Homo sapiens: one gene and its partners. The protein of the gene in region 1 purifies or fractionates together with the protein of each later gene. This does not show direct contact. Each region holds a gene or a part of one and is shown in the gene's direction. Other genes may lie near its edges. The genes, in order: TNFRSF10A, ERMP1, FBXO11, MFAP3, PPP1R15B, LAPTM4B and CASP10.

What was found.
Region 2: the proteins of TNFRSF10A (region 1) and ERMP1 purify together in Homo sapiens (affinity purification with mass spectrometry; 2 studies listed by BioGRID and IntAct, with this or other methods). This does not show direct contact.
Region 3: the proteins of TNFRSF10A (region 1) and FBXO11 purify together in Homo sapiens (affinity purification with mass spectrometry; 2 studies listed by BioGRID and IntAct, with this or other methods). This does not show direct contact.
Region 4: the proteins of TNFRSF10A (region 1) and MFAP3 purify together in Homo sapiens (affinity purification with mass spectrometry; 2 studies listed by BioGRID and IntAct, with this or other methods). This does not show direct contact.
Region 5: the proteins of TNFRSF10A (region 1) and PPP1R15B purify together in Homo sapiens (affinity purification with mass spectrometry; 2 studies listed by BioGRID and IntAct, with this or other methods). This does not show direct contact.
Region 6: the proteins of TNFRSF10A (region 1) and LAPTM4B purify together in Homo sapiens (affinity purification with mass spectrometry; one large-scale study listed by BioGRID and IntAct). This does not show direct contact.
Region 7: the proteins of TNFRSF10A (region 1) and CASP10 purify together in Homo sapiens (affinity purification with western blotting; 2 studies listed by BioGRID and IntAct, with this or other methods). This does not show direct contact.

The regions. Positions count from the first base shown.
Region 1 is NC_000008.11:23,204,603-23,208,102, reverse strand, and holds part of TNFRSF10A (tumor necrosis factor receptor superfamily member 10A), read left to right. Parts: intron 1-686; exon of another isoform or gene 687-1,195; intron 1,196-3,500. UniProt on the Homo sapiens protein: Receptor for the cytotoxic ligand TNFSF10/TRAIL. The adapter molecule FADD recruits caspase-8 to the activated receptor.
Region 2 is NC_000009.12:5,812,618-5,816,117, reverse strand, and holds part of ERMP1 (endoplasmic reticulum metallopeptidase 1), read left to right. Parts: intron 1-3,082; coding exon 3,083-3,229; intron 3,230-3,500. UniProt on the Homo sapiens protein: Within the ovary, required for the organization of somatic cells and oocytes into discrete follicular structures.
Region 3 is NC_000002.12:47,899,999-47,903,498, reverse strand, and holds part of FBXO11 (F-box only protein 11), read left to right. Parts: intron 1-3,500. UniProt on the Homo sapiens protein: Substrate recognition component of a SCF (SKP1-CUL1-F-box protein) E3 ubiquitin-protein ligase complex which mediates the ubiquitination and subsequent proteasomal degradation of target proteins, such as DTL/CDT2, BCL6, SNAI1 and PRDM1/BLIMP1.
Region 4 is NC_000005.10:154,045,467-154,048,966, forward strand, and holds part of MFAP3 (microfibril-associated glycoprotein 3 isoform 1 precursor), read left to right. Parts: intron 1-3,500. UniProt on the Homo sapiens protein: Component of the elastin-associated microfibrils.
Region 5 is NC_000001.11:204,402,881-204,405,849, reverse strand, and holds the end of PPP1R15B (protein phosphatase 1 regulatory subunit 15B), read left to right. Parts: 3' UTR 1-2,469; downstream 2,470-2,969. UniProt on the Homo sapiens protein: Maintains low levels of EIF2S1 phosphorylation in unstressed cells by promoting its dephosphorylation by PP1.
Region 6 is NC_000008.11:97,848,788-97,851,150, forward strand, and holds part of LAPTM4B (lysosomal-associated transmembrane protein 4B), read left to right. Parts: intron 1-2,363. UniProt on the Homo sapiens protein: Required for optimal lysosomal function. Blocks EGF-stimulated EGFR intraluminal sorting and degradation.
Region 7 is NC_000002.12:201,207,141-201,210,640, forward strand, and holds part of CASP10 (caspase-10 isoform 1 preproprotein), read left to right. Parts: intron 1-934; coding exon 935-1,043; intron 1,044-1,149; exon of another isoform or gene 1,150-1,327; intron 1,328-1,929; coding exon 1,930-2,422; intron 2,423-3,500. UniProt on the Homo sapiens protein: Involved in the activation cascade of caspases responsible for apoptosis execution. Recruited to both Fas- and TNFR-1 receptors in a FADD dependent manner. May participate in the granzyme B apoptotic pathways.

The DNA.
Region 1 (3,500 bases):
CTTTTGGTCAAAGCCATTCAACAAGTCTCTAGGAAGTTCCACACTTTCCCACATTTTCCTATCTTCGTCTGAGCCCTCCAAACTGTTCCAACCTCTGCCTGTTATGCAGTTCCAAAGTTGCTTCCATATTTTCAGGTATCTTTTCAGCAGCTCCCCACTCTACTGGTACCAATTTACTGTATTAGTTTTTTTTTTTTTTTTTCGTGCTGCTGATGAAGACATTCCCAAGACTGGGCAATTTACAAAGAAAGAGGTTTAATTGAACTTACAGTTCTACGTGGCTGGGGAAGTCTTACAATAATGATGGAAGGCAAGGAGGAGCAAGTCATGTCTTACATGGATGGCAGCAAGCAAAGAGAGCTTGTGCAGGAAAACTCCCCCTTATAATAACCATCAGATCTTATGAGACTTACTCATTATCATGAGAACTGCAAGGGAAAGACCTGCCCCACATGATTCAATTACCTCCCATTGGATCCCTCCCACAACTTACGGGAATTCAAGATGAGATTTGTGTGGGGACACAGCCAAATCATATCAGTAATATTGTCCTTATACAATGAATTGGAAAGTGCTCCTTCCTCTGCTGTCTTTAAAAAGGGTTTCTGAATAATTGGTATTAATTCTTCTTGAAATGGTTGGTATCATTCAGTGGTAAAGGCATCTGGGCCTCAACTTTGTTTTTCTGGTGAAAACATATACATGTATTTAGAATTAGCCAGCTGGATTCAGTTTAGATGATCCCAATTTTGTTGGCAACATCCAAGACATGGTAATCAGGAGCCAGTCGAACATATGCCTTCTTCTCTCCATCAGGCCTAATCAGGGTGTTGAACCTTGGCCACATAAACATCATAGAGCTTCTTCACAACCTGTTTGATCTGGTGCTTGTTGGTTTTAACATCTACAATGAACACAAGTGTGTTGTTGTCGTCTTCTATCTTCTTCATGGCATACTCAGTGGTCAGTGGAAGCTTGATGATAGCATAGTGGTCAAGCTTGTTTCTCCTGGGGGTGCTCTCCAGAGTCTCAGTATCTTGGGCCACCGGAAGGTGGGTGATGTATGGATATTCTTTTTTTCATGGCAGTGGACACCTTTCTACACTGCCTTCTTGGCCTTCAAAACCTTTGCATCGCTTCAGCTTTAGGAGGGGCAGGAGCTTCCTTCTTTGCTTTCAGTGCCATCTTGTGAAAACGACTTTTCTTTAGGAGTAGTTTTGATAACTAAGTCAAAATCTTTACTTGCTATATGTCTATTCACATTGTCTCTTTCATCTTGATTCAGTTTCAGTAGTTTGTGTCTTTCTAGGAATTTGCCCCTTTCATCCAAGGTACCTAATTTTTTGTTGTACAGGTTTCATAGTATTCTTTTATAATTTTTTTATTTCTATATAATCTGTAGTAATGTGCTCTCTCTCATTTCTGATTCTAATACAGTCATGCCTCAGTTAATGATGGGAACTCATTCTGACAAGTGCATCATTGTGCAAACATCATAGAGTGTACCTCCACAAACCTAGATGATATAGCCTACTGCATCCCTAGGCTATGTGATATAGCCTATTGCTCTTAGATTACAAACCTGTACTAGTAGACAATTGTAACACAATGATAAGTATTTGAGTTCCTAAACATGTGAACATAGAAAAGGCCCAATAAAAATATGGTATAAAAGGTTAAAAAAGATGATGTAGTTGTCTAGGGCACTTACCATGAATGGAGCTTGCAGGACTGGATCTTGTCTGGGTGAGTCAGTGAGTGGTGAGTGAATGTGAAGGCCTGGGACATTCCTGTACACTACTATGGACTTTATAAACACTGTACATTTAGGCTACACCAAATCTGTAAATTTTTTTTTCCTTCCTTCAATATTAACTTCGTGTAACTATTTTACTTTATAAACTTTTTAATTTTTAAAACTTTTTCACTCGTTTTAACACTTAGCTTAAAAAACAAAAACTGTACAGCTGTACAAAAAATGTTCTTTCTTTATATTCGTATTCTATAAACATTTTTGTATTTTTAACTTAAACTTTTTTTTACTTAAAAATTTTTTTGTTAAAAACTAAGATAGAAACACAGACATTGGCCGGGCGCAGTGGCTCACACCTGTAATCCCAGCACTTTGGGAGGCCAAGGCAGGCGGATCACGAGGTCAGGAGATCGAGACCATCCTGGCTAACACAGTGAAACCCTGTCTCTACTAAAAATACAAAAAATTAGCTGGGCATGGTGGCAGGCACCTGTAGTCCCAGCTACTCGGGAGGCTGAGGCTGAGGCAGGATAATCGCTTGAACCTGAGAGGCAGAGGTTGTAGTGAGCTGAGATTGCGCCACTGCACTCCAGCCTGGGTGACGGAGTGTGACTCCTTCTCAAAAAAAAAAAAAAAAAGAAACACAGACATTAACCTAGGTCTACACAAGGACAGGTTCATCAACATCACTGTCTTTCACCTCCACATCTTGTCGCGTTGGAGGATCTTCAGGGGCAGACACACATGGAGCTGTCAACTCCTATGTCCTCTGATAACAATGCCTTCTTCTGGAAAACTGCATGAGGCTGTTTTATAGTTACCTTTTTTATTTGTAAGTAGGAGTACACTCTAAAATAACATTACAATGTATAGTATCAAAAATACATAAATCAGTAAGTCATTTATTATCATTATCAAATATTATATATAGAACTTCATTATATGTGCTATACTTTTAACTGGCAGTGAAGTAGGTTTGTTTACATCAGCATTACCACAAACACCTGAGTAACGCATTGACTTATGACATTACTAAGCGATAGGAATTTTCCTCCTCCATTATAATATTATGGGACCACCGTCACATATGTGGTTCATTGTTGACCGAAACGTCATCATGCAGTGCGTGACTATAATTTGAGTCTTATTTTTTCCCTGTGCTAATTTTTTAACACAATTAGTTGTGCCAATATATCGATCTATTTAAAGAACTAGATTTTGAGTTCATTAATTTACTCTGTTGTTTTTCTGTTCTCCGTCTCATTAATTTCTGCTCTAATCTGTATTATTTTCTTCCTTCTGCTTGCTTTATCTATAGTTTGCTCTTCTTTTTCGAGTGTCTTAGAGTGGATTATTAGGTTATAGATTGAGATATTTCTTCTTCCTTAATAGACATTTAGGAAGGATATTTCTTCTTCCTTAATAGACAATTTCTCTGTAAACTTCAGCTACGTTAGCTGTATCCCATAGGTTTTGGTATGTTGTGTCTTCATTTTCATTCGTCTTATTTTCTGATTTCTCTTTTGATTTCTTTTTAGACCAGTTGGTTATTTAGGAGTGTGCTATTTAATTTTTATATAGCTGTGATGTTCCCCAGTTTCTTCCTGCTATTGATTTCTAATTTTATTCCATTGTGGTAGGAGAGTGTATTTTGTATTATCTCTATCCTTTTAAGTGTATTGAGGTTTATCTTATGGCCAAGCATATGGTTTATTTTGGAGAATGTTCTATGTGCACTTTAAAAGAA
Region 2 (3,500 bases), on another chromosome or scaffold:
GATTGCCTTGCCTGCCTAGGCATTTTTTTTAACCTCTCTTCTCAAATACAACTCCCTCCCATCTAAGAGGAACTATTATCCTAAGTTTTAAGATAATTAATGATAGTTTGGCTTTACCTGTTTTTCAGTATGGTTTTCATTGTATTTTTTAGCATAAATTTCTTAATATCAAATAGTAATATTTTAATAATAGTATTTTAATATGATAAGATCTCGTAATGTACGTATTTCCCCATCATCATAGTTCTTTTTCCTTTTGTATTTGTGTCCTCAGTGCATCACATCAGGATGCATGTGGTATCTGTTTGTCTCATTATTAATGATACTACATTTTCATCGTTTGATTAAGGTATTTATTTGCCAGGTTTTTCTACTATTTCTTTCTTTGTACAAGTTACTGATTTCCCCTTAGTGATAGATACTTTAGGTAAATATCCTGTTTGTCATAAAACTTTGATCCTAGTTTTAGCAATCATTGATGACTCTTGTCCCCAAGCATTTTTATTACAATGTTTACCAAATGCTACTGCTGAGTTTCTGGTTCCATCATTCTGCCTGTAGGTCATAGTTGGAATTCTGCAAGAAGGAAGGCTTTCCATTTTCCTTTTTTTTTTTTTTTTTTTGTTATTTCAGTACTTTATGTATTTTAATTTTACTCTATATATTCTGTTACTATTGTTTATTTTGTTGCATGAATTGTCCCAGTTTAGGCCAGTGGTGTCTATTTCAAATCAGTGCCTGAGCCCCTTTGACATGTCTTTTTGATCACTTTCTTACTTTCTGGCACAGATGTTTCAACTTACCTTGTACTTTGCTAGTCCCAGACCTGGAATCAGCCATTTCTCTAAGGAGGCTTGGTTTCTTTTGGTGGGGAATAGTATTCAAAAGTAAATGGTGCCAGATACAGTTTTTCTTTATATTTATCTTGTTTGGGGTTTGTAGACCTTTTTGAATTCGTGGCTTGAATTCTATGAGTTTTGGAAGATTCTTGGCCATTAAGTCTTTAAACATTTATCTTCTCCATTCTATCTTCTGTTCTTTTGGGACTCCAATTACTCACATTTGTGTATTTTCCAACCTTTTTTTCTTTTTATGCTTTAATTTTAATCCTTTCTTCTGCTGTATTAAACTTTGTGTTAAGCCCATTTATTAAAATTCGCAACATCAGTTATGTTTTTTCATTCTAGGATTTCCATTTGTAGGACTCTTTTAAATAGATTATACTTGTCTGGTGAAATTACTGATATCTGTGTTTTTTAAAACATATTAATCATAATTATTTTAGAATCTGTGTCTGGTAACTCCAGTATCTGGATTACTTGTATGTCTGTTTCTATAGGGTCCCTCTGCTTTTTTGGGTCATTTTTAATTTTTAATTTTTATTTTTTCAGATGGAGTCTCACTCTGTCACCCAGGCTGGAGTGCAGTGGCACAATCTTGGCTCAGTGCAGCCTTCACCTCACAGGTCTAAGCAATTCTCCTGCCTCAGCCTCCTGAGCAGCTGGGATTACCATGCCCTGCTTATTTTTGTATTTTTAGTAGAGGTGGGGTTTTGCCATGTTGGCCAGGCTGGTCTTAAATGCCTGACCTCAGGTGCTCTGCCCACCTCGGCCTCCTAAAGTGCTGGGATTATATGCGTGAGCCACTGCACCCAGCCTTGGTCATTTTTTAAAATGTAGGAAAGCAATTTTATAATCTGTGAAGTTAAAAAAACAATATTCTTAGATTCCCTGACATTCAGTTACTTGGTCTGTTTACATCAGTCAATATGTTGCTAAGTTTTGTGGTAACAACCCCAAAATCTTGGTGGTTTACAACAGCAAAGGCTTATTTCTTGCTCGTGTTGCATTTTGGTTTCTGAATAACTGCAGTTATGGTCCACGGTTATTATGTTCCATGTGTCTTATTCATTCTGGGATCCAGGCTGAAGGAGAAGCCCCTATAAGGGATGTATTGATCTCACAAATCAAAGTTAAGGATAAGTATGAATGATGTTAATGCCTTTGAAAACTCTGCCCAGTTGAGGGTCATGTCATTCCTCCTCACAGTCTGTTGGCTAGAGCAAGTCATGTAGCCACGCCTGCAGTTAATAGGTACAGAAGAGTATGTACTCATTCCCCAGGCAGGCATTACAAGGTATGTGGCAAGAGTAGGAATGTATAATCCTTTTTCAGCGAGGGAAGAGTGAATAATTATACAATTATACATATAATTATATAATTATAATTATATAAATATACGTATAATTATATAATTATATAAATTATAAAACAATGTATCCCACTATCCTACAGGAAAAACTCCCATTTGAAAAAGCTGTAGATGTATGAGATACAGATGGAAAATTATTAATAATGATAAATTATAAAAAGTAACAAGGAACTTTATGGCATATTCAGTGAAATGTTAAGCAGTTATCAAAATGATTATTATAATACAGATTGAGCATCCCTAATCTGAAAATTTGAAATCCATAATGCTCCACAATTCACAACTTTTTGAGCACTGACATGATGCTCAAAAATGTTCATTGGAGCATTTCTGATTTTGGATTTTAGGATTAGGGATGCTTACTAGTATAATGCAGATATTCCAAAATCCGAAAAAGTAAAAAATCCAAAATACTTCTGATCCCAAGCATTTCAGATAAGGTATACCCAATTTGTATCTAGCAACATAGGAAAATGCATTTAATATAATGTTAAGTGAAAACAAATGTACAAAGTATATATATCTTGAGTACAGCTATATACACACAATTCTACATTAGTAAGAAAATTAAAGATATACAATTGATAATAGGCATTTTAGGATGATAGATTTATGAATGATCTTTCATTTTCAGACAGACTTTTGTATTGCTGTTATTTTATACTTTATTTTCACAAAAGGTTTTTATTCTAAAAGTCAAACACATATATCAGAGAAACATTGGAAACTACAGAAAAAGGGATGAAAAGGTACATATTGGACCCGTCTCCCAAAACCACCACTTTTACTGTTTTCTATGTGTTGAAAAACATTAGTATGTTAAAAAAAATTGCCGGAATACCTTCTATTGTGTTGTCATCTTTCATTTTAGGTCCTGAAAATCCTTGGTTGGTTCAAGCTTATGTTTCAGCAGCTAAACACCCTTTTGCTTCTGTGGTGGCTCAGGAGGTTTTTCAGAGTGGAATCATTCCTTCAGATACTGACTTTCGTATCTACAGGGATTTTGGGAACATTCCAGGTATATTGTCAATGGTTACGGCCTACTGTGCAGCATTTATTTATCAAAAGCAAATTTTAAATCTTGAAAGTATGTGAGTAAACAGCATTTTCTGAGATCAAATTCTTTATGTGAGAAATATACATTGACTCACTAAAACAGAGTTTGTTTCCTTTTTTAAACTCCATACTAATTTAAATGCTGGCCTCCTCTAAAATATGTCATCTTTCCCCATAGAAGAACAGGGGTGAACTGTTTAGCACCTCATTCCCAAAAGATGGTAATAGATCCT
Region 3 (3,500 bases), on another chromosome or scaffold:
GTGAGGTAAGGTGACTTGGTTGTTGGCAGTCACATGCCAGTGTCAATTTTCTTCTCATTGATGTCTATAAACTGTCAATATTCATGAATCCAAATTTCAGTATGTACCCAACCAAATGGTAAATGAAATTTACTGTAGAATTGTTGCTTCTCTGCAGCTAGTACAAACTGTTTTGGAGATTCTGTGTTGGCACAGAGCAGAGAGGAAAAGAACTTTAGGGAAAATAGTGTGAGTCTTAAAGAGGGCACATAAATGGCCTTAAAATGAATAAAACATTAAGATGAATTCGTTAACTAAAATAATAAAGATGTTGCCAGCCATATGGAAAAATATGTTATTCTTTGAAAAATTGACATTTTAATTACGTTTTTTTAAATGTCCGATTCATATAATGATCAGAAGTTAACTAAGAATACTCTATTTCGAAAGTTTTATGGAGCACGCAAAGTGTCACTTTCTAGTTTGGAAAGAAAGGGATTTTGTTGTTGCTAGTTTAGGAATATGCTGGGTTTAATTATTACAGGATAATTAAAGAACTAAAGCTAAGAATGTATGTGTGGTTTTTGTTTTTTTTTTTTTAACCTTTTACTAACTCTTAATGGATATGTAACATTTGCATTAGGATCTTGGATAGAGTTACTTAATAGTGGATCAGACAACTTTCCAGATAGGGAATCAAAGTGAGACTCGCTGTTTTGAGACAAACTAGTTCAGACTGTATATAAAATCATTTGTTTTATATAAAGATGCATTTCAGGTTCTTTAGTGGTAATAAAATAGTTACAGTATAATATGTTTTCAGGCAAAAAGTCTGTCAGAATGGTCTTTAGCTGCTTCATTGCCCACAGGTTAATTGGTATAAAAACTTCCTTGACACCACTTTTAAATATATTTACATACACACGTGTGTATGTGTATGTGTGTGTGTATGTGGGTATATTTGTGTATATACATGTTTGTACATACATTATGTGTGTGTGTATATACGCTTTGTCTTATCTGTAATGGCCAGTGTTTGAAGAAGAAAGAAACTAGACCCTATAGATTAAAATCTTTGAGGATTTTTCAAAGCTTTCCATGGGGGAGCATTTCTTACACCCCACGTAAGGAAATATTGGTCTGGGTATTTCATGGACTATTGTGTTCACTCGTTAGCTGAAATGATCAGCTATCCTAAGACTAAATACTAGCCTAATCATTAGCTTTTTTAATTTCTTAAATTCCTGAGATTGGGATTTCATGTACTAGTAGAATTGTATTTTACAGGCCCAGAGCAATGGCTCACGCCTGTAATCCCAGCACTTTGGGAGGTCGAGGCAGGTGGACCACGAGGTCAGGAGTTCAAGACCAGCCTGGCCAACGTAGTGAAACCTCGTCTTAACTAGAAATACAAAAATGAGCCAGGCATGGCGGCTCACGCCTGTAATCCCAGCTACTCTGGAGGCTGAGGCAGGAGAATCGCTTGAACGCGGGAGGCTGAGGTTGTAGTGAGCTGAGATCACACCATTGCACTCCAGCCCAGGTGACACAGTGCAAGACTCGGTCTCAAAAATAAAAACTGTATTTTACGCAGTGACAATTCGGTAATATAGTCCATGATTTAATGAAACAGTAGTGTGGGATTGGATTTTTGATATTTGTTTTGTTTTAAAATTCTAGAAGGAGTTAGCTTTTGCAGCCCGTTCTGATGAATTTATTGTCTTTACTGCAGGAATGTATTTTGTAATTTTTTTAGATATTACAAAGTATGAGGAAAGCTTACAAGTCTACAGAAGTGCTGTGTGTTCTCATCAGTAGATTTTAGTTGTTAAAATTAATTACTTTGAACTGAGATTGCACCACTGCACTCCAGCCTGGGTGACAGAATGAGACTCCATCTCAAAAAATAAATAATAAATAAAATAAAATTAATTACTTTGAATAGGTAATATTGCCACAGTTTAAAATTCAGAAGTCCCCTTCGTACATCAGCCTCCAGCTACTAAATTCTTCTACCTGGAATCTAATAACTGTTATTAGTTTCTCATTTATTACCTTTTAATAAAAGATGAATTTGGGTTCTGGAAATAATCTTGACATGGGAGTTTTTGAAAATAGATGTATTTTTTTTCTAGTTATTGGAAAAGTCACAGGACTGTTTTGAAGTGCTGAAAATCTAATTGTGATATTTATAGTTCAAGAAATTTAATGAATGCATTAATAGATTTTGCTATTCATTTCTACTCTGAGCTAATCTTGTAGAATAAAAACCTAGTCTCTCTAATCCCATATTTGTGGGATAAAAATCTTATCTATGACACACATATATATGTACCCACATATATATACATATATATGTATATATGTACACACGTGTGTATATATATACATGTACACACGTGTGTACATATATACATATATATGTATATATATGTACACACGTGTGTATATATATACATATATATGTGTATATATGTACACACGTGTGTATATATATACATAAATATATATATCTCCCCACCGGCAATATTTTATGTAATATTATACGTACTGAATGATTTCAATTTTTAAAAACCCTGCAATTCCATAAATACGTGTATATATATACATATATATGTGTGTATATATACGTGTATATATATACACGTGTGTGTGTATACGTGTATATATATACACGTGTGTGTATACGTGTATATATATACACGTGTGTGTATACGTGTATATATATACACGTGTGTGTATACGTGTATATATATACACGTGTGTGTATACGTGTATATATATACACGTGTGTGTATACGTGTATATATATACACGTGTGTGTATACGTGTGTGTATACGTGTGTATATACGTACGTGTGTGTATACGTGTGTATATACGTACGTGTGTGTATACGTGTGTATATACGTGTGTATACGTGTGTATATACGTATATATGTGTGTATACGTGTGTATATATACGTGTATATACTTTTTTCTCGACACTGTACTGATGAGGAATGAGCTGTATATTTATAATATGCAGCAGCCAGGAGACACTCCTTGCTGTTCTAGTCAGGAATGCTAGTTATACTTTCTGTGGCATTGTTCTAGCATGTGATATTTTAACTTCATGGATCCTGTGCAGTCTTAATAGAGGAGTTCTGCACAAGAAACATGATTTTTCCTGTTTTAGGAAGTAAGTACTGTGGGGTACTACTCTGTCATCTGGTGGCTAACCCTTCCAAATGTATCCCATGAGAGGAGACAGTGCCACTCAACCTTTTGGAGGCAGGAAGTATGGGAGCTGTAAAAAGAGCCTATTTTCTTAAAGCTTGGAACTTACTTGAGGGATAGAAACAGAGTAGTGTTGCTATTAGTGTTAAAGTTGTGCTGATGAGGCCTAAGAGCTCTGCTGATAAGGCCTAAGAGCTCTTATCCTGCTTTTCTCCCTTTACTGGAAATTCTGACAAACCCAAGAGAAGGCCAACCAGCTTGGAGACCTACTAGGTAAGGCAGGAACCACAAGTAGTTCCTGATC
Region 4 (3,500 bases), on another chromosome or scaffold:
TCCCCCCAACCCCCAAGATTTTTAAATGGTTGCATGGTATTCTGAGTGTTTTATAATGATGTAACTATCAAATGTAAATTTTAGTTCAATATCTGAAAGAACCATGAACAATAATAATAGAGCTTATTCAGTGATTACCATTGCCAGACTCTGTGTTTTATGTATACTACCTCATTCAGACTTTGCAATAATCCTGTGAGAATAGATTCTGTTATTTTGCCCATTTTAAAGATGAGGGGCTGAGGCAGGGAGATTAAGTCATTTATAAAAGTTGCAAGGCTGGTTAGAGTCACAGATCGTATTTGAATCCTATACTCTGAACCTCTCTGCTACCCTGCTCTTATTAGAGACCTTCAATTTTGCTGATCTAGAGTAATCTAAATCTAGAATGGAATGTGAGTGATTATATCTCTCATTGGAAATATTCAAATAGCCTGAAGCACCATTCTGCAGGTCAGTTGCAGAGGAAATTGAGGAACTGTATTAGTGGCCCTTAGATGCAGTACATGAATCCAATGCCTCAGAAACACCCAGGGAGCCAATTAAAAGTCATAAATTCCAAGGCGCAAACACAGAGTTTCTTACTCGTTCTGGGTTGGGACCTGGGAATCCATATTTTTAAAAAGCTCTCCTGACAGTTGTGATATTCAACCTGGTTTGGAAACTGCACTTGGTGATCTTTTATTCCTACCATTATCCTCTAGGACAACATGGTAAATGAAGGTATCAGGTTGGGAGTCGGAAGAATGCATTTAATTAGGTACTTTTAAGGTCTTCCAAGATTGTTAGCATTGACTGTTTTTGTTTCAGAGAATTTATAATAGGCAACTGTATGTCAGTTTGAACAATTATAATCCCTGTTGCATAACATTATTCAATTTATAAAGATCTGTCACATACTGAATCAAATTTAAACTAATCTCCATCAATATTTATTGAGCATGTGCTAGTTATGACGTACAGCAATAAAAAATATAGGCCTTGTTCTTAAGGGGTAGTTGAGATGGGATAGACTGCCTAGCAGTACAGAGCAGCATATACCAGCGCCAGATGAGTACGGTAGGTGGGGAGGGCTCTGGGGTGAAGGAGAAGCCATCCTTTATACAGCTATACTCTGAATTTATGTAGGAGGAATAGCTAAGGCCTTGATAGGAGGTTCAGGAAGTTTGCGGGAAGGCAGAATTCCATGTGGGAGTTATGCTTTGCCAAGCCTTGTGTTGGTGAGGACACTCATTGCCCTGCAGCCCTCGCCTGTGACAGCTGTTCATTCTGCTGAAGTTCCTGAATCTCAGAGCAGGAAGACCGAATCCATTTCCTTTCTTTCCAGTTTCTTCTACACTAGCTACTTTGATCCTGGGGGGATGTGACCATACCCCCAGGTGATCTGCCCACGTTTGAGCCTCTCAGTTGTTTGACGTCTTCATCATGGACGAATATCTCCCTCACTCACTTCAGCCACTGCAGCTTCCGGAGTCTATCTCCAGTTTCACCATTGGCCCAGTTAGTTCTCCTCCAGAATCAGGAATCAGACGCAGCATTTTTGGCCACTGCCTGTCTTTACCACAATTTTTTAGCTGTTTTTTGTGAACAACTCCTGACCAGTGACCCCTCTCATTTTTCCCTGTCTCCTGGCCCTCTACCTTGAGTGCTTTCCTCCCAATTTTTATTCCTCTTTATTCTTCAGGTCCTGCACCTGAAGAATAGGTGCTGCACACCTCTTTTTCTCAGAGGCTTTCCATGATGAGATTAACTCCCCATGTTGGGTCCTCCTGTAGCATCTGTATTTTCCCTTGGGTAACATTGAGTTTATTTTGTATATATGTAGTTAGTGTCCATCATCTGCCAGACTGAACTTCGTGGAGGCCGAGACAATGTCTATGGGGCAGTAGGTAGGCACATGGTAGGTGCTCAATAGATACTGTTCAGTATATGAAAATGTATCCCTCCGATCTCAAACTCAGTGGTGGGGAAGAGTAGAAAGGAAGGAGATGGCAGGTTAAGAAATGAGGTGGCATTAAAATAAACTGGAGTTGTGGGGGGCTTTTTGTTTTGGTTTTGGTTTTACTACAGAGAGAGCAAGCCTCCAGCTCAAAGCCTTTCAGCAGGCAGTAGTATCTCTGGAAGCTAATAACACTTCTTTGTTTTCATTATGTTTATGTGTACGGTTACATTTGTCCACAGAACTGATGTAGAGTTTCCTTTTTAAATAAATGTGAAAGTAAAAATAAAATGAGTTGATTTAAAAGAAAAGCAGAAATGACGATAATTTGGTTCATGGATATAGTAAAAACAACAACAACAAAAAAGACAGGAGAAGGAATGAATGAAGTTTGGGAAGTGCTGCCCTGGATGAAGCTATAGGAACTCCTAATCAAAGTTCTGGAGAAAGCCTGGAGCATTTTTTCAGCACACTCATAGCCTGTCACCGTTGAGAACCACTAATCTAGAATAAAGTACAAAATTATGTCCTCCAATTGCTGTATATCTTGCAGTGAAAAAGAGCTTGGAAACTTACATGTCAAGCCCCTAGCACAGTGCTTGGCTGATGGCAGTCATTCAATAAATGTTATTTCCATTGTTTCTACCCATCACCCCCTCTTAAAAAAGAGACTGTATTCCAAACTAGATTCTCCTACTAACTTGTAGCATGTCGTAAGAAGCAAATCACTGTGCACTGAATCAATTAGATTATATTACTTCCAAAATCCCCTCTCTGCCTAAGTCTTTGTTTCCTTTAGTGTCCTTTTTGTGCGGTTTTAGGAGGAAATGGAAATAAACACGTTTAGTGTGTCATGTATTGCCAAAGTCTGAAGGTTTTTTATTTTACTCTGTATACCCCATCCTTAAATTGTAAAGATTTAGAAAAGTATTTGTCACCATTCAACCATCCTTTCAAGGGTTAATTAATGAAAATTAAATGACATTTGCACCGTATTGTAATTTAGACTTTGAGATATTTAATGGCAAAATACAGTGATTCATTGTTTTTTATGTTCTGTGATCAAGCAGCCTTCATATAAATATAAAGGAGAGTAAATGTCATTTCCAAAACTAATTATCTTGGTGCTTTATAAGACATAAAGCTAGGCATTTCATCCCATATTTTATAGAAATAAAAGTTGAATTTTTTCTTTGAGAGTTGGTGGCTTAAAGGGGGAGTCAAATTACCAGGAAGGTGATCATAAATACATAGACTTTTGGACTAGGATGTTATTTTGCCTTTTATTCAAGATATTTTGCTCTTCTTTTAAATGTGTCTAACAATCTGTCCCTGTAGTTTTATATTTGCATTTCTACTAACTAGACACTTAAGATGTCAGTTCCTCCCTTAGCTAGTTTACAGAGTTTGAGCTAGAAATTTGGTATGCTTACAAACTATTAAATACACTGTACTTTGTCTCTTCGTATTGGAGAAACTATTAAAAGAAAATTCTGTTGTCTAATGTTCTTGCCCATGAAGGAGGTTCCATAGCTTTAGAAGTCAATAACTCTATTTATGT
Region 5 (2,969 bases), on another chromosome or scaffold:
GTGCTTTTAAATGTCCTTTGCCTGCATGAGGTGGAAAGGGGACCTTTTTGAGTTGTCATTTTGCACTTTCAAAACTTATTTTCTTGGAAAACAATATTTATAGGGCTTAAAGCCCATTTTCATTTCTAATCTAAATTATGTGTGCCTATCTGAAAACTTTGGGCTCTTTCTTGTTTCTTTCCCAAAATTCAGAAGTTAATGGGCTTTTATGTTTTTCTATATTTTTTTTATTTCAATGATTTGGCCTGTCTATGTTAGGCTAAAAAATAACCTTGTGTATGCTACCAACTTAAAGTGCATTATTTTGTGTCACTTTTTTTTTTCTTGTAAAAATGACTTGGATTGAAAATATGTGGTAGCCTTTTTATTTCTACATTAAGTTCTACCTAGGATATTTCCAAGGACTGCCACAAAACCCATATGTGCAGTACTTTACTACTTTGGGAAAGCTGCATCTTTCTACCACATTTTAACATCTAATATATTTAATTTCTTTGAAGAGGGTTCTGTGTACGTTATTGTAGTTCCCAGTTTAATATAGTTCTTTGTATCTCTTAACAGGTTGAAGTTATTGCAAAACACTCTGGAAAGTAATAATTACATCATAATCATTTATTTTTTAAACTTAAAAGCCTAGAAATTTCCTAGAAAGAAAATAGGAGACATCTCAGAGCAATTTGGTTTTGGTGTATATGTTCTCAACAGAAAACCAGTGTTAATGAATATCATGCCTCAGCACTGTCACTTTTAAAACCTGTCAGGATCCCACTGTAAAATTGGAAATGGGCAGTTCTGAATTTTCACGTTTGAAATGTAAAATATAAACTTCAGTCAATATCCAGGTTTATTGTGTCCTACTATTTAATAATGAGAGAAGTAATGGCAAGGCCTTTACTTTCAGGAAAGGATAGAAGTATAGATTAATGACTGGAAAGTTTTAATATATTTAGCCCAAAGGTTACTTTGAATTGAAGTCTTTGCATTGACTGTTTGTGTTTGGTTTATTTGTTTAGCTTTACAAGGTACACATAAGTTAGGTTGAGGGGTTGTTAACCCTTCCGTGGTCTGCTTTCATTCCGTGTGCTTCCTGTCACAGGTAATGGAAAACATAAGTAGAATAGGTGACCTCTTAGTTTTGAACTTATTTAAGTGTGGGGATGAATTTTTCATCAGAAGTGCTTACAGGGTTACTACCTCAGTTTACAATCTACCTGGTCATTATTTTATTTCTATCCAGTTCTAAGAACTGCCTCCACTGTTTATATATTCATAATTAAACACATTGAGAATGCAACACTATAAAAGCTGGTCAAATTTTTGCAGAGCCCTTATTCTGTGTGTTTTTTGTTTTTTTCTTTTTTTTTTGAGACAGAGTCTCGTTCGGTCCCCCAGCTTGGAGTGCAGTGGCGCGATCTCGGCTCACTGCAACCTCCGCCTCCTGGGTTCACGCGATTCTCCTGCCTCAGCCTCCCGAGTAGCTGGGATTACAGGCACACACCACCACGCCCGGCTAATTTTTTGTGTCTTTTTAGTAGAGACGGGGTTTCGCTATGTTGGCCAGACTGGTCTTGAACTGCTGACCTCGTGATCCGCCCGCCTCGGCCTCTCAAAGTGCTGGGATTCTGTGTGTTTTGTGCACCTCCACTTTAGGTAATCATAGGGAGCACATTTACAGGATGGTCTAATAACATGAAAACAGGCTAGTTTCAAGCAACAGCAATGTCGGTTGGAAAGCAGGCGTCATTTGCCTTGAAAAAAGCCTTTTGACAACATACAGGCATTCTTTTAAAACCAGGCTGAAACATTTTATTTCCGAGACTTAACGTTGTGTTTCCTGTTTCTTAAACCTAGCACCTCTGTGTATTTGAAAATAATGAGACATCTTTCATTGGATTTTGGAAAATTGTTCCCCATGGGATTCTAACCTCACTACCAAATGAGTGAAAGCTTGATTAAGAGTTCTTCCATATACTAGCCTCCTTGGAAGAAGTGATCAGAAGGTGATAAGAAGGACAGAAAGGACTATTTTAAAGTTGGACTGAAGGAGAAAAAAGCAAAATTCTTGTTTCATCCCAATTCTAGTTAGAACAAAGTTAAACCCCCGTAATCTTAAAGAGAAAATCTTTGGAGGTTTTAATTAAACATTTTATACATTTAAAGTCTTGTTAATGGTGCTTTAAGTGTCAATGTAGCATGTAAAAGGCTTTGTACAGACAGGTAAAAGTTCCATTTCTGAGTGATGAAATGTAACACTTCTTCATCTTTAACTTGAAATCAAAACTATCAGATTTTATTTTTGTATAATTTAAGGAAGGTAAAGTTAGGGGACTAGAAGACTCTAAATTGGCTTCTACAGATCAATAATTTAAATGTAACTAGTTGGGATTTTATAGTTAAAATTATATTTGTGTATATAACATAACTAATCTGTAAATTGTAATAAATATATTTGCAATTATTAAATGTTAAGTGATATTTTGGTTCAACTTTATATTATATGTATCATAGTATTTTACAATGGTTTTGGAATTACTAAGCAGGATTAGTATAATTGCAAACAACATTTTAGTAATAGAAGAACTTGGTTCTTGCAGTATTATGAGAGGCCCTTCTAAGAAACTGAAGATTTGATTCTGAAATTGGCCCTAGCTTTTCAGTTTTGCTGCAAAGAAAATTAAACTGGGTATTCACAGAAGCAATAACATTCAGATGCTGGGCTTAGCCTAGTGCTTAAGTAGCAGGGAAATCTCTGTTTTGTGCATTATTATTATTATTATTTTTTGAGACGGAGCCTCTGTCACCCAGGCTGCATTGAAGTGGCACGATCTCAGCTCACTGCAACCTCCACCTTCCGGTTTCAAGCGATTCTCCTGCCTCAGCCTCCCGAGTAGCTGGGATCACAGGCACCTGCCACCATGCCCGGCTAAATTTTGTATTTTTAGTAGAGATGGGGTTTCATCATGTTGGCC
Region 6 (2,363 bases), about 75 Mb from region 1:
CTGGTGCGGTCACAGCTGTTTCCACTTGTTATAAGTTGCTGTATCTAATGCACACACACGTATGTGCGCTGGGGGCTCAGTCCTAAAGTCAAATATGCACACGCAGAGAAGACAGCTGTTGCTTTGTTTTAGAGAATACTTTTTTCTTCCCGCAGCTCAAGCTGACACTTTTGGAATTGCTAGTGGAGATGCTGTTGTTAGATACTGGCTAGAACTTGTCAAGGTCGACCATGAGGCTCTCTTCATGTGCTGACCTGTGCCTATCTTTCCAACTTCATCTCTGCAACATTCTCCCTTCAGTGTTCACTGTAGCAAACACCTTGCAGTTCCCAGAAAGTGCCCTGTGTCCTGCTTTCCTCTTAACTCCCTACTGGAATGTCATCCTCTTTACTGCACACCTGGTCATCCTACTGAGAGGCCTTCCTTGACTCCCTAGCCTAAATTGGTTGTCCTTGTCTGTTCTTTCCTAACTTGTCTGCATCCACACATTGCTCATGTTGAGTTTTACCTGTGTCTGCCTTCTGCTAGATTGCAGGCCCCTGAACAGACAGTGACATGTTTTCAGGTTCAAGTCGCTGTGACTGAGTTCCCTGGACACCTAGGTGCTCAGTGGGTGCTGGTTTGTTGGACTTAGTTTCCTGCTGTGCTTCCTTACCTCAGGCATGTGTTCTGTACTGAGTGTATCTTGCCTACTCCATTCCTTTTCCACGTGGGCAACGCTGAACATTTGCCCCAGACTCTGTATCTTGGTTAATACCTGACATATAAAGTATTTAGCACATAGGCAAAGATCACTACCTCTTTCAGGAACAAAGGCCGGCTGGCGGGTGCGACTCTGGCGCATTGCCTTTGCCTGTGTGTTGCTGGCCAGTTATCGGCTTCTTGCATCACAGCTCCAGAGTCCCATTTAGCTTGACATGGGCTGGGCCTTGCAGATACTCCTCCTTCACCTCCTGACCCTGTTCAGCCAGGCCAGTAGGGGGCACTGGAGGAGGAAAGCCGCCACCCCCCCTCCTCCACCCCCCTGCCCGCCTGCCCGCCCCCGGTTCCTGTGTGTTTCTGCAGTGTTCAGATCTTGCTGGCAGTGCTCCCCAGGGCCCAGTGCGAGCGGAGACAGCGGTGGCAGCGCCTCTCAGGCGGTTTCCAGAGCGGGCCGTGGCTCCCGGGAACGGCTTCCCGCAGGTGATTCTGTGCACACTGGCCTCTACCTGGTTCAGCGGGAAGCCTCTCCACTGTCCAATGGGCTTCAGCCACACCCTCCCTAGCCGTGTCTCAGCCCAGCCTTGGGGACCTCTGTTCTAGCTTGTTCCGTCCCTGAGTGCCGTACTTCAATCTTCTTATCCATTAGTGCTCTTTCCCCGCCATGAGTCAGTTCCCGGTTCCTCAGTCTCCTGTTAATAATTCTTCATGAAACTATATTCACATCACTGTGTGGCTTCTGTGTTCTGACTGGACCCTAGCCAGTACAGGTGCCCTCTGCCTAGGCAGCTGAAGGAACCATACAGGCTTTTCGGGGGCCGGCCTAAGTGGCACCTCCGTCACTCCGCAAACATCTGAGTTCCTGCTGTCGGATAGGCACTGGCCCACCCTCGAGGAAGTGAGACCTGGCTTCAGCCCCACAGGAGCTCCAAGACTGGGAGGAGAGAAGTAATGAAGTGTGTAGAGCTGGAGAGGAGGGGTGTGTGTGTGTGTGTGTGTGTGTTTGGGAGAGTGCAATGTGACAAAAACTTAACAAAATTTTAGTGTGGTTCTAGTAGGAGCTAAAGGGACAGATAAATGAAAATTAACAAAATTGATGAATACCACTTTAAGCATAAGTGATATCCCTGATAGAAAATCTAACCAAGTGTGGTTTTGTTTGTGAATAGTCTTTCCCTTTCCACAAATCACTTGAGGTGGGTGAGGTTTTGTTTTGTCTTCTCATCTCTGAACTCCTAAAGGGCAGGGACTGTCTTTTGTCTCAATTATCTTATACTCACAATGACTATTACATACTAGATGCATAATAAATGTTAGTTTACTGAATGAAGGGTGATATAACTATTCTGTATTCCATTTTCTACTCCAAGAAAGCCGAAATCAGCCAGTGTATAGACCGCCAACTCTGAGGTATCCTTATTTCATAGACATGGAAACTGATGTTAAGGAACTTACCCAAGGCTACGCTGATAAAATGTGACTGACCCAGGCTTTGAATCCAGGCTGATACCAAAAGCTTGGCGTTTTCACTGCACTTTGCAGTTCTCACCATGAGTGGTTACTGTAGTCAATCAAGTGCCTGCCCTATTTGTGTGTGCACATGGACACACTCACCTAGGGGTCTTTTTTCCTCTTCAGAGCCATCACCATTTCTTTTAGAGTCA
Region 7 (3,500 bases), on another chromosome or scaffold:
AGTGCAAATGAGATTTATCCTTTGTCCTGGGCTCTAGGACTTAAAAAAGAATCTTTGAAATTTTATTCAGATCACAATTGTGCAGTAAAAGTGAGTTGCAGAGTAGTCAGAATCCCCAGTTTTTCAATATGTGACTTCAGAAATAATGTGGCATAAATACCCCAAGGGGTTTAGACTAGAGTATAAAAACATGGTTTTGGACAGGCATGGTGGCTCATGCCTGTAATCCTAGCACTTTGGGAGGCTGAGGTGGGCGAATCACTTGAGGTCAGGAGTTCAAGACCAGCCTGGCCAACATGGTGAAACTCTACCTCAACCAAAAATACAAAAATTATCGGCTGGGCGCGGTGGCTCATGCCTGTAATCCCAGCACTTTGGGAGGACGAGGTGGGCGGATCACAAGGTCAAGAGATCAAGACCATCCTGGCCAACATAGTGAAACCCCGTCTCTACTAAAAATACAAAAATTACCTGGGCATGGTGGCGGGCGCCTGTAGTCCCAGCTACTCGGGAGGCTGAGGCAGAAGACTCGCTTGAACCCAGGAGGTGGAGGTTGCAGTGAGCTGAGATCACGCCATTGCACTCCAGCCTGGGTGACAGAGCGAGATGCTGTCTCAAAAAAAAAAAAAAATTATCTGGGGGTGTTGGTGGGCACCTGAGGCAGGTGGATCCCTTGAATCCGGGAGGCAGAGGTTGCAGTGAGCCGAGATCGCGTCACTCACTCCAGCCTGGGCAACAAGAGTGAGACTCCATCTCAAAACAACAACAACAGCAACAACAAAATAACAACAACAACAAAAACATGGTTTAAACAACTGGCATGGGGAGATACATCCTGCTCTTCCTCACAGTGGATCCATTGGAGTGGTTGGTTAGAAACATTTAAGGCCCTAAGATAAGGATTCCTACTAAGTGGCTCTATCTATTCTTCAAGAGGGCAGCTGTGTACAGGATGAATCGGAACCACAGAGGCCTCTGTGTCATTGTCAACAACCACAGCTTTACCTCCCTGAAGGACAGACAAGGAACCCATAAAGATGCTGGTAAGAAAGTCTGGAACAGTTTATCAAATGCAAATTGGGGATCTTAAAATTATTTTTTATTTTCACATTTTCTTTCTGTGACTTTTATCTTCCATATACGTGTAAGGATGATATCATGTTTCTGAGCCTCTTATATATCCCTGGGGAGTCATCAGTCTGCTAAAGAGTGGCAAGAATCTTTGACTATTCACAATTCTGAATAGAGGAGAGCATGTACTGGGGGAGAGCCTGCTGGATTGGCACGAGACAACTTGGGCGTGAGCTCCAGCTCCACCACTAACTAGGTGTGTGATCATGGGAGAGTCAAGAGACCTTGGCTTCTTCAACTGTGAAACAGGATGAAACACTGGCCACTGCCGATTCTCAGGACTGTTGTGACAACACTGGGTATTACGTGATAGGAGATTCATTGTAAGATTTTATGGTTATGAAAATAAAAATAATCCAAAGCTTTAGGCTATTTGCTGTGCAAATTTTGTAACTATTAGCATTGTTTCAGTTTTTTTTTTCTTTGAGACAGAGTCTTGCTCTGTTGCCCAGGCTGGAGTGCAGTGGTGCAGTCCCAGCTCACTGCAACCTCTGCCTCCCAGGCTCAAGCCATTCTCGTGCCTCAGCCTCCCGAGTAGCAGGGATTACAGGCGTGAGCCACCACACCTGGCTATTTTTTGTATTTTCAGTAGAGATGGGGTTTTGCCATCTGGCCAGACTGTTCTCAAACTCCTGACCTCAAGTGATCCGCCTGCTTCGGCCTTCCAAAGTGCTGAGATTATAGGTGTGAGCCACTGTGCCCGGCCTTGTTTCAGTTCTTCATTTTGTTTTGCATCATTTTATTATTTCCCCTTTCTCTCTCTCTCTCTCTTTTTTTTTTTTTTTTGTTTTTAAACAGAGATCCTGAGTCATGTGTTCCAGTGGCTTGGGTTCACAGTGCATATACACAATAATGTGACGAAAGTGGAAATGGAGATGGTCCTGCAGAAGCAGAAGTGCAATCCAGCCCATGCCGACGGGGACTGCTTCGTGTTCTGTATTCTGACCCATGGGAGATTTGGAGCTGTCTACTCTTCGGATGAGGCCCTCATTCCCATTCGGGAGATCATGTCTCACTTCACAGCCCTGCAGTGCCCTAGACTGGCTGAAAAACCTAAACTCTTTTTCATCCAGGCCTGCCAAGGTGAAGAGATACAGCCTTCCGTATCCATCGAAGCAGATGCTCTGAACCCTGAGCAGGCACCCACTTCCCTGCAGGACAGTATTCCTGCCGAGGCTGACTTCCTACTTGGTCTGGCCACTGTCCCAGGCTATGTATCCTTTCGGCATGTGGAGGAAGGCAGCTGGTATATTCAGTCTCTGTGTAATCATCTGAAGAAATTGGTCCCAAGGTGAGAGCTCTTTTTTTTCTTCCATTTGTAATTAATTAGTTTTATTTATTTTTTATTTTACTCTCATTCAACACCTTTGGTAAGGGTGAGAGTTCTACGTTGTTCTATCCATGTACCTGTTCAACCATCTGCCTACCCTCCTGTTTATCTATTTATCCATCTATCCACCCATTCATCTATCCATCCATCTATCCACCCATTCATCTATCCATCCATCCATCTGTCCATCCATCCATCCATCCAGCAACCTTGTATTGAGTACCAGCCTGGACCTGGAAAGGAAGATACAGAGTTAAAAAAAGACAGAGTCCTTGCCCTCAGGTTGCTTACAAGCTAGAGGGATAGACAAACAAATAGACGGGGAAGGGCATCCCCAGCTGGTAAGTGCACATTGTGAAGTATAGGTGTTATGGGAACATGCAGAATGAGTACCTTGCCCAGATTTGAAGGATCAGAGGAGGCTTCTAGAAATGACAAATAGATGTTAGGTAAAGAATCAGGTGAAAGATGTGCTGGGCAGAGGGAATAGCATGAACAAAAGCATGGGGGCCTTTTATTTGTTCGTTTATTTATCACTCACTCTTACGTCCTGAGCACCTATGTGCTATCTTTGGACTTCTATTTGCCACTGCTCTGACAGCTTCCCTTCTGTCTCTGCCACATGCTGTCCTCTTGGCACCTTTAGCCATACCTAGAGGCCATGGGCTCCTCCATGAAAACGTCTCCAAAGTTGCCATCTCTGGCCCACTCATCTCTGAATTCCTGGGGGCAGAGACCCTGTTTCATTCAACTTTATATCCTCAGCCCCTGACCTGATATATTGTGAGCTTGTTAAACATTTGCTGGGCCAATGAATGACTTGCTTGAGCCTGTCTCATTAACATCCCGCTAGATATCCTACCTCTGTTTAGCCCTTGGACCTCACATTCAGCATGCATGTTTCTGAGCTCATCTTCCCAGCTCTCTCCAGGAGCTCCTACTCCTGAATTTCCATTTGAAGGAATGGCCATAGTGCTCTTCTGGGAATTCAGGATTGGAACCTTGAGTCAACTTTGCTTTTCTCTCTTCTTTACCAGCC